Linked DNA regions of Homo sapiens: region 2 is linked to region 1. Evidence: fine-mapped expression QTL. A gene starts in region 1. The other region holds a variant in brackets. All regions are shown on one strand. Distances are from middle to middle.

What was found.
Region 2: its variant is fine-mapped to the expression of MRFAP1 in whole blood (TOPMed, PIP above 0.99).

What each region holds. Positions count from the first base shown.
Region 1 is chr4:6,638,789-6,643,788 of GRCh38, forward strand. It overlaps MRFAP1 (Morf4 family associated protein 1), which reads left to right and starts at 1,897. Exons shown (of 2, transcript NM_033296.3): 1 at 1,897-2,470; 2 at 2,942-3,941. The coding sequence starts at 2,075. The coding sequence ends at 2,458. It overlaps LOC124900653 (a long non-coding RNA gene), which reads right to left and starts at 1,833. Exons shown (of 2, transcript XR_007058007.1): 1 at 1,732-1,833; 2 at 1-242. RefSeq lists an enhancer at 97-891 and a silencer at 2,865-2,934.
Region 2 is chr4:6,693,482-6,698,950 of GRCh38, forward strand. S100P (S100 calcium binding protein P) reads left to right here and starts at 397. Exons shown (of 2, transcript NM_005980.3): 1 at 397-589; 2 at 3,412-3,689. The coding sequence starts at 452. The coding sequence ends at 3,561. RefSeq lists enhancers at 1-664, 665-1,400, 2,603-3,365. The variant T/C (reference allele first, on the strand shown) is at 2,465.

The sequences.
Region 1 (5,000 bases):
CTTTTTTAGGAATAGAATGGGAGGCAGGTTTGCCTGATGCAGTTCCCAGCTTGACTGTCCCCTTTGGTTTAGTGATTATGGGGTCCCAAGATTTATTTTCCTTTCACACAAGCCCCAAAGTTGGGTTTTTACAAGAGCAACCAAAATATTAAGAACCTGAGAAAAGTCAAAACAAAACATATACTTACGTTTCTCTGAATCCTTAATTCTGCTGTAGTCAAAACTGTGATGTGTCCCTTTACCTTGAAAATGGAAGCCAAATCCATGGGATTTATGTAAGCTGGATTTCTGAAAAGTTTATTGATGTTTGGGAATGGGACAACAAGCTAGGAAATTAACGTATCTCTCCTCATTCTGTGTTGAGTGGATGTTAAGGCAAATTTACCAATATGCGCCAAGCTCTGCCCAGGGCGTTAGGGCATTAAGGCCACAGAGCTAAGACCCCAAAGAGCCTAGGATCCAGTGGAAGGGCTCAGAGGCTCTGGACAGCGCCTTGCACCACACACTGAACATGGGTCTGCTGGGGCCTCAGGACGGAGCAGCCAGGCTCCACCTTGGGGTGTGGGGAGGCCGGTTTGGTGAAAAGACACCCAGACCCTTCTGACTGTCATCCAAGGAAGAAGGAAAACTACTCTTTAAAAAGGCAGAAAGGGCCAGGCGCACGGCTCATGCCTGTAATCTCTGCACTTTGGGAGGCCCGAAGTGGAAGGATCACTTGAGGCCAGAAGATCAAGGCTGCAGTGAGCCATGATCCCACCACTGGACTCCAGCCTGGGCGACAGACCGAGACCCTGCCTCAATAAAAAAAAAAAACTTTTTAAATAATAATAAGTAAATAAGGCCCGGCACGGTGGCTTACGCCTGTAATCCCAGCACTTTGGGAGGCCGAGGTGGATGGATCACGAGGTCAGGAGATCGAGACCATCCTGGCTAACACGGTGAAACCCCGTCTCTACTAAAAATACAAAAAATTAGCCGGGTGCGGTGGCAGGCGCCTGTAGTCCCAGCTACTCGCGAGGCTGAGGCAGGAGAATGGTGTGAACCCCGGAGGTGGAGTTTGCAGTGAGCCGAGATCGTGCCACTGCACTCCAGCCTGGGCGATAGAGCCAGACTCTGTCTCCAAAAAAAAAAAAAAAAAAAGTAAATAAAACGGCTGAGGGGACTCAGGTCCCCCTGCGTGAAAGGAAGGGGCTTTAAGCGTCCACCTGGGGTAGCTGCATTATCACGTAGGATCCTCCTCTTCTAGTGTGGAAGGCCCTTTTTAATTTTCATTTATATTTTATTTATTTATTTTGCGACGGAGTCTCACTCTGATGCACAGGCTGGAGAGCAGTGGCGCGATATGGGCTCACTGCAACCTCCGCCTCCCGTTTTCAAACGATTGTCTCAGCCTCCCAAGCAGCTGGGGTTACACGCGTGCAACACGACGCCCGGCTAATTTTTGTATTTTTGGTAGAGACGGGGTCTCGCCATGTCGGCCAGGCTGGTCTCGAATTCCTGACCTCAAGCCATCCACCCACCTCGCCTCCCAACGTGCTGAGATTACAGGCGTGAGCCACCGCGCCTGGGAAGTGCGGGAGGCCTTTTTAAAAAATGTAAACTCGCGTGCTCAAGAAGCCCTATCGGAGGGAAACACCCAGAAGAGGCCACCCTCCAAACACAGGGTAAAACAGGGGTGACGCACAGAGGTAACGGGAAAGCAGGAACGAGCGAGAGCGTGCGGTCCCGTACCTGCGCGTGCCTGCGTGCGCGTCCGTGCGGCCGCGACGCCGCCGCCGGTGCCTCTCTTTCTAGACGTGCGCGCGCCCGCAGCTCGCCCCCCTGACCGTAAAGAGGCCCGGCTGTGTCGTGAAAGGGGCCGCAACGCGCAGAGCGCTGGTTGACGGCCGGGACTCCATTTTGTTCGCCGTTACTCTGCGCGTAAGTCGCTTGTCCGTGGCTTCTCTGAGAAGAAAAGTTGAAAAAGGGTAAAAGTTTTCAGGAATATTCGGGCTCTCTATTGCTAAGCATAGCGAGTGTCGGTTTTCTCTCTCCAACAGACATCGCTATTGCGGTTCCGAGGCAGTGGGAAGAGATGCGGCCCCTGGACATCGTCGAGCTGGCGGAACCGGAGGAAGTGGAGGTGCTGGAGCCCGAGGAGGATTTCGAGCAGTTTCTGCTCCCGGTCATCAACGAGATGCGCGAGGACATCGCGTCGCTGACGCGCGAGCACGGGCGGGCGTACCTGCGGAACCGGAGCAAGCTGTGGGAGATGGACAATATGCTCATCCAGATCAAAACGCAGGTGGAGGCCTCGGAGGAGAGCGCCCTCAACCACCTCCAGAACCCGGGCGACGCGGCCGAGGGCCGGGCGGCCAAGAGGTGCGAGAAGGCCGAGGAGAAGGCCAAGGAGATTGCGAAGATGGCAGAGATGCTGGTGGAGCTGGTCCGGCGGATAGAGAAGAGCGAGTCGTCGTGAGCGCGGTCGGCGGTAAGTCGGGCACCCGCGCCAGGCCGAGGAGCGGCCCCAGCTTGGCCGCTCTTCGAGAGCGATGATTTCATCGAGATGCACCGGAATCGGGGGTGGGGCGGGAGAATAAAGGCGTGCTCGGGTCAGGGCCGATCTGGGCCCCGTCTTCGTGTTTTGTTTTTTGACGGTGGCGGCGTGGGATAATCAGAGTGGCCGGGTTTGGGCGTGATGCGTGTTCAGTGGAAGGGTCATAAATCTCAGAGTCGCCAAGGAAACAGAAACGGACAAGGTCCCGGGCCGTCCAGCAAGCGGGGGTGGAAATAGAGGATTTTCGGGGAAGACGTTGGACAAGTCAACGTTGCTAGAGACTGGAGTGAGTCAGGTGGTGGCCAGAAGAGGTGGCGTCCTGCACAGTGGCGTTCGTGAGGGTTTGGGGGTCGTTGTGCCTGGGATTAACCTCTCGATGATGAATTTCTTCCCATTGTGCTTTAGGTTTCCAGCCAATGGATTCTGGTCAACTGGTGGAGATTGGCTGACACCCTGGAGAAGCCGAAACCAGAGAGCCTTTTGTTTTCTCTTTTTTCCTGTCTATGCTCTGTCTCACTTAACACTACGTTTTCTGCTATGGTCTGTGGTTGATGACCTCAATATGAGTTTCGATTGTTAACGTGTTTTTGTTTGGGAAGTAATTTTGTTTGAAAATGCTCTCACATACAGGAATTAGGGCCTAGATTGTAAGCTCTTGCAGCAGTCACATTTGTTCCCGGGCTTTGGTGGTTATTTCTAAATTTTTGAGGTGCTTTGCTATTTCTTGTGTGACCTGATAGCTCCCTGGAACTTTGGGTCTGTGTGTGACACATGAGACTCACAGTTGGAGTTCTCCAGCTCTGGAGGTGCTGAAGGAGCTGCATTAATTCTGGAAGACGACTCCATGCAGCAACTACTGAAGAAAGGACCAGACTTCAACGGGGAGTGTGGATGGGCCGACCTGGCTGGGACTCGTGAATCTGGAGAAGAGCTGGAGAATGGATAGTATTGTCTGTATTTGGAGACTTTAATTTCTGTGTGAGACCAAAGGAGGAGAGATGTGTTTTGTTCAAAATTTAAATTTGTTGTGGTACACTATCTTATGTAACCTGTCTGGTGAGTTTGTTTGGACAACCTAACTCAGCTTTATTTGACATGGAACCTAAAATAGAAGATAAGATCTTGATATTCTGTACAAGTTGATGTAATACCCTGATGCGTTTTAGAGGACTTGGCATAAAATGAAAGATTGGCAAAGGCCCTTGAGGGGCTTGGGGATGACAGTATGGAACTGTCTGCATTGGACCCTAAACTGGACTAGAAGAGGCATCTTCAAGGTTCATACGTTGTCCAGCTGTAAGTTCATTTGAGTAGCAGACCTAACAAATATTTGAGGTCAGAACCCTACCATGTTAAAACAAACAAAAACTTACCATGTTAATAAAAGTATTCATTTGCTTGAAAAGACGAAAGACCTAAAAGGTTATTGAGAAATGTTAGTCCTTTAAGAATGAAATCTGCTGTCTCCCAGATGGTTCTCACTGTCAAATGGAGGGTGAACATCTTAACGGTTTCTGAGGCTCTTAGTCTCTAATCAAAGGGAAGCTTTCTCTCTCTGCTGTTGGGAACCGGGTGAGGAAGAAACACACTTGGTTCTTAGTGTGGGAAGAAACCACATGTAATCCTGTGGTCCAGGCCTCTGCCTTCAGAGAGCCAAAGCACCTTCAGTCTTTCCAATTGGAACATTGTTTTCTAGGCCTTGCACTGGGAATATAGCGATTACAGTTGCAGGGTGAGGGATGACATAGAGGAGATGTGATACCCCACCCTCCTTCCAGATTGAAGCCTTTCTGCCTCAGCTGCTAGAAGTGTTGCTGACAAACACCCTTCAGCTGGTTAGCCCTCTGGGCAGTGCCTTTTCAGAGGAGAGCTGCGTTAGCCAAAGTCATGCCCTTTTCCCTGGGTAGCCTACATCTAGTGAGTAATGGGCTGGAAATCTCAGGTCGCTATTTCTCTTACCCCAATTTGGGACAACTTTGAGGGACATGGTGGCTTCTGAGCTTGTGGGGTCTGCTGAGGCTTTTGTTAGGATTACATCACGCAGCCCACCTCCTCCCCCGTCCCAGCCTTGCATTCCTCCTCTTCCACAAGTGTTAATCCCTAAAAAACGTGCATCTAGTTTTCATCTTGGAGTCCACTTTCTGGGCAACCTAGTTGGTAGAAATCAAACAAAGCCATGTGTCCCTAGCACTAATAAAGATAGAATGTCCCAGGAGAACACTTGAGGGGGAGGTCTAGGAAAGCTTTCCAGAGCAAGTAACTCTTTCAGAGCTTGGCCTTGAAAGAGGAGCACAGCTTCCGAGGTCAGGAAGAGCAGGAGAGGCATGCTAGGCACAGGAAACAATGGAAGATGTTCAAGGTTTTCTGTGTGAGTTCCACACAGAGGAGGGAGAAGAAATGTATAGGACAGAATTATGAACTGGGAAACAACCACGAAAACTACATTTCGTACATTTGCCAAAAC
Region 2 (5,469 bases), 55 kb after region 1:
TGTGAATTCACTCTCAGATGTCTCCTCGTGTCAGCACGCTGGGTGCCAGCACGCTCTGATATTGACACAAAGGGCCACGGAGTCACCACTCACTCCACACACACTCACCCCGTGCCCACTTACCCAGGGAGGGCCAGGAATGAGGATGCCACTGTGGCTCAGTGATGGCGCCGAGACACAGGTGAACACTGTAAAATGTGGATGCCTGGAGGCAGCCCACACCCTGGGCCTTGGCTGGGGGAAAGGTTCCAGAAACGTCATCACAACGATGCATTTCATCAGAACTGAGCACATGAATGGGGAGGGGCAGGACTTCCTGAATGTCCCAACCCCACTGTCCCACCCTCTGTGTCAATATGAGGCTGCCTTATAAAGCACCAAGAGGCTGCCAGTGGGACATTTTCTCGGCCCTGCCAGCCCCCAGGAGGAAGGTGGGTCTGAATCTAGCACCATGACGGAACTAGAGACAGCCATGGGCATGATCATAGACGTCTTTTCCCGATATTCGGGCAGCGAGGGCAGCACGCAGACCCTGACCAAGGGGGAGCTCAAGGTGCTGATGGAGAAGGAGCTACCAGGCTTCCTGCAGGTGAGCCAGGCCGGCAGTGCTGGACTCAGCGGGGGCTGGGGAAGAAGGGGAAGGCGTGGCAGGCAGAGGGCTGAGAGCTGCGGTGGGGTCGGCGGTCAAGGGGCTCAGAGGCAAGAGGGACAGATCCTGAAATGCCCTGGAAGCCCAGCCAAGGAACGGACCCACCCTGGCATAAAGGCAGGGGAGGCGGGAGCATCTGAGCAGGGAGAGGGTGTGGTCAGCTTGATCCTTGAAACATGGGGTTGACCCCAGTGTATTTGTGACAGGCCTGGTGGGAGAGTGGGACTCAAACCTGTGCAGTGGGGGCAGGGGCGGAATGCAATCCAGGGCTGCCATTTGCAAGTTTGCCAAGCTTGCCAAGCCCTTGAGCCCTCGGGGCTGTCCTCCAAGGCTGCCGGCCATAAACGCCCCAGCTCTGCCTCCCACTTGCCCGCTTTCCCTGCTCCCATTCCCAGGCCCCTTGTTGCCTGGTATTAGTGGGTCTGGCAGGAAGGACGGGAGGAGGCTCCATCCTGGCACCTGTCTGCGCAGAGCTGTGGACCTCCCTTGGGCTCCCTGCCAGGGAGGAGCCACCGGCCTGAGCCTCACAGAAGGCCCCTCAGGGCGGCCAGGACCAGCTTCCTTCCGCCCGGGGCAGCCTCCGGCTGGGCTGAACAGAAGCCGTACCCTCTCCATTTCCCCTTCCCTTTGACCCCTGTCCTCTCCTTCTTTCTCACTCCCCCACTTTCTTCCTTCCTTCCCCTCCCCTTCGGGCCCCACCAGACTCTGCCTACCTGCTAAGGGGCTAACCCACATAGATGCTGATAATCAAAAATGAAAGCCTGAAATTTTCAGCCCTAGAATCACTTCAAAGACATGAAACACTTCAGAATATTGCTTCTATTTTCTTTTCTTTTCTTTTTTTTTTTTTTTGAGACAAGATGTCACTCTGTCACCCAGGCTGGAGTGCAGTGGCAGGATCACGGCTCACTGCAGCCTCGACCTCCCTGGGCTCAGGTGATCCTCCCACCTCAGCCTACCGAGTAGCTGGGACTACAGGTGCATGTCACCATACCCGGTTAATTTTTGTATTTTTTTTAGAGACAAGGTCTCACCATGTTGCCCAGGCTGGTCTCAAACTCCTGTGCTCAGGCAATGCGTCAGCCTCGACATCTCAAAGTGCTGTGATTACAGGCGTGAGCCCCGACACCTGGCCTAGTTCTATTTTCTAAATGTGAATTCTGTAAAGATATCTTTTAAAAATAAAGTTCTGTTTTTGGTAGAAAATGTAAAAATAGATAAATATGGAGGGAAGAAATCCCCCCTGGAATACAGACGCTTCCTCTCCCTTCCAGCCTTTTCCCCATATGAACATTGCTGTGAGTGAGATTTACATGCAATGTAATTTCTTTTTGAGCTTAACATTACAACATAAATTCTCAAACTCTGATGTTCATTAAACACCCCAGCCCCATCCTGGGAACTTGGGCTTGGGGCTCGGGGTGTTCTGATAATGATCAAAGTATGAGAATTGAACCCATGAGGACTTTGATCCAAGATACTGGGGTGTGGGGAGGGGCAGGCACAGGTGTCCTGGGAACACACTTTGAGAAGCAATGGCAAAGCTGGGGGTCCAGCTAATGTGTTACATTAGAATCACCTCGGGGAGGCCCTGGGTGCCCTTCTCAGCCCTCCCTCCGGAGGCTGCTGAAGCCCAGCAAAGCCGGAGTCAGAGAACAATGTCCGCCTGAGGGCAGGGCTGGGCTGGGCTGGCCTTCTGGCCCTATCTGCTCCGTGCCCAACCCAGCGCCCCGCACAGTCGGAGCTTTGTAAATACGAGGTGACTGTCTGCCTACAAACTTTGTAAACATCACTTGAAATGGCCGCAGGGTATTG[T/C]GACATGGCCATACCACTATTTGTTTGCTATTGAATTTGTACTTCCCTGCCTTACTTTTGCTATTGCAAACCATGCTGTCACTAAGGTCTTCATGCACACAGTTGTGTCTTGGTCAGATGATATGTTTCTACCAATTTTAATTGTGTTTCTTTCCACCTGGACACACAGCTCTCTGGCCCAGGGCTGGGTCATCAGCACACCCTGCTGCTGCTGTTCAGATCTGCATCCTGGTCCCGCTTGGTCCCACAGTGAGAACGCTTTGCTATCACATGGGCAGGCTCTGAGAGCCCTGCCGGCCTGGCCTTCTCAAAGAAGACCTGAGAGCTTGGGACCCAAGCAGAGAGGAAGAACAGGGCTCAGGGTGCTTGCTCCATGCTCGCTCCACACCTGGGGCTCAACCCTGGCTTTCCCCGGCTCCCTGTGTGACTTCAGGGCAGGTCCCTTGGGCCCTCTGGGCCTTATCATCTTCATCTGTAACAGGGCGATGCCTCTGCCGTGTCTGGTGGTGTTGAGGAGTTCCTGTTTGTGTAAGCAGCTAGTTCAGTGCCAGCACGAGATGGGAGGCCCATGAAGTTAGCAGTGCACAAAAAATAGAGCAAAGACTGGATGCATTTCCTGAGAACAACCATCACTGTAAAGCACTTTACAAATCCAAAGACAACCCCCGGCAAAAACTCAAAATGAAACTCCCTCTCGCAGAGCACAATTCCAATTCGCTCTAAAAACATTACAAGTTAGTTCATGTCATGCCAGATAGCTGAAGGCAGCTCACAAGTTCTTAAGGCCAGGAATGCCATGTGTCTGCTATGCACAGCTGGCCCTGGCCCTGACAGCAAAGGTGACGCAGATGTGGGTGCCCTGCTCCTGCCCAGCAGCAGTGCTTGGTGGAGGCTGAGGCCCTGCACAGGCACCCTCACTGCTGACCTTGAGCCTCTCTCTCCTCTAGAGTGGAAAAGACAAGGATGCCGTGGATAAATTGCTCAAGGACCTGGACGCCAATGGAGATGCCCAGGTGGACTTCAGTGAGTTCATAGTGTTCGTGGCTGCAATCACGTCTGCCTGTCACAAGTACTTTGAGAAGGCAGGACTCAAATGATGCCCTGGAGATGTCACAGATTCCTGGCAGAGCCATGGTCCCAGGCTTCCCAAAAGTGTTTGTTGGCAATTATTCCCCTAGGCTGAGCCTGCTCATGTACCTCTGATTAATAAATGCTTATGAAATGATCCTGGTCTCAGAGAAACTGGTTATTTCCTTAAAACCTCAGTGTCCTCTCCCCACAAAACAGAATTCACTAATTAAACTTGTCATTTCATTACTCATTGCCTGCCTGCAGTGGTGAGACAGATGAAGAAGACAAGGCAGTCGATAAAAATCCATTTGTTGGCCATCTTCTGAGTGCCCACTGAGACACAGTCCCACCTTTGGCCGTGTGAATGCCACCATGTCCTGGACCCAAGGGAGGCTCGGGTACACACATCCATGTATTTATTCATCTACTTCGTAATTCATTTAGTCGGTCACGTAGCCACTCATTGAACCTGGGCCCCTCCATCTCTCCAAACAGCATGTTTTCTTCAAGTAACATACTTCTAATATTTATTTATTTTTGAGACGGAGTCTCGCTCTTGTCACCCAGGCTGGAATGCAATGGCGCCATCTCAGCTCACTGCAACCTCCGCCTCTTGGGTTCAAGTGATTCTCCTGCCTCAGCCTCCCGAGTACCTGGGACTGCAGGCACCCGCAAAACCACACCTGGCTACTTTTTGTATTTTTAGTAGAGACGGGGTGTCACCATGTTGGCCAGGCTGGTCTCGAACTCCTGATTTCAGGTGATCTGCCCACCTCAACCTCCCAAAGTGCTGGGATTACAGGTGTGAGCCACTGCGCCTCGCAAAGTAACATATCTTTTTTTCTTTTTTTTTTTTTTTGAGACGGAGTCTCACTGTGTTGCCCAGGCTGGAGTGCAATGGTGCGATCTTGGCTCACTGCCAGCTCCGCCTCCCAGGTTCACGCCATTCTCCTGCCTCAACCTCCTGAGTAGCTGGGACTACAGGTGCCCACCACCACGCCCGGCTAATTTTTTGTATTTTTAGTAGAGACAGGGTTTCACCGTGTTAGCCAGGATGGTCTCGATCTCCTGAGCTCGTGATCCACCCACCTCGGCCTCCCAAAGTGCTGGGATTACAGGCTTCAGCCACCACGCCCAGACAGTAACATACTTTTAATGATGCAATGCTATTTTTGCCACAAAGACTATGAAACACCATAACAGAGAAACAATGAATTCCAAGAGAGCATTAGAATCATCAGTGAACAACTGCTCACATCACCTGTATTTAGTTTTACGACACTAATGTTGGGAGCACCCAAAAGGACTCAAGCGAGGTCTTGGATGATAGGTAGGTAACTGGATCTGGTTTTAGGACCCCTATCATTTTTTGGATACCCAGTATTTAAAGCCTCTTGCTATGTTTGAAGACATTTTCACTAGAGAAGATCTATCACCAAAAGATCCTGAACTTGGAGGTGGACACAACAATACGAGGCTTGGGTGGATCCCTCTTTGGGGAAGGGACTGCAGATTGCAAATATTTTTGCTAGAGAGAGAGTCGTGTTAGGTTAGATGGGAGCAGATACACACATTTAAATAAAGTAAAAACTAATAATGAGGGAGAAGTAAAGTTAATAATGGGGGAAACAAAAGGGGTGGACTGCCAGAATGGAAATCTTTGTTTCTTTTTTCCTTTGAGAGACGGCCTTGCCCTGTCACCCAGTCTGGAATGCAGTGGTGCTATCGTGGCTCACTGCAATCTTTTTTTTTTTTTTGAGACGGAGTCTTGCTCTGTCGGCCAGGCTGGAGTGCAGTGGTGTGATCTCAGCTCACTGCAAGCTCCACCTCCCGGGTTCACGCCATTCTCCTGCCTCAGCCTCCCGAGTAGCTGGGACTACAGGTGCCTGCTACCAAGCCTGGCTAATTTTTTGTAATTTTTAGTAGAGACAGGG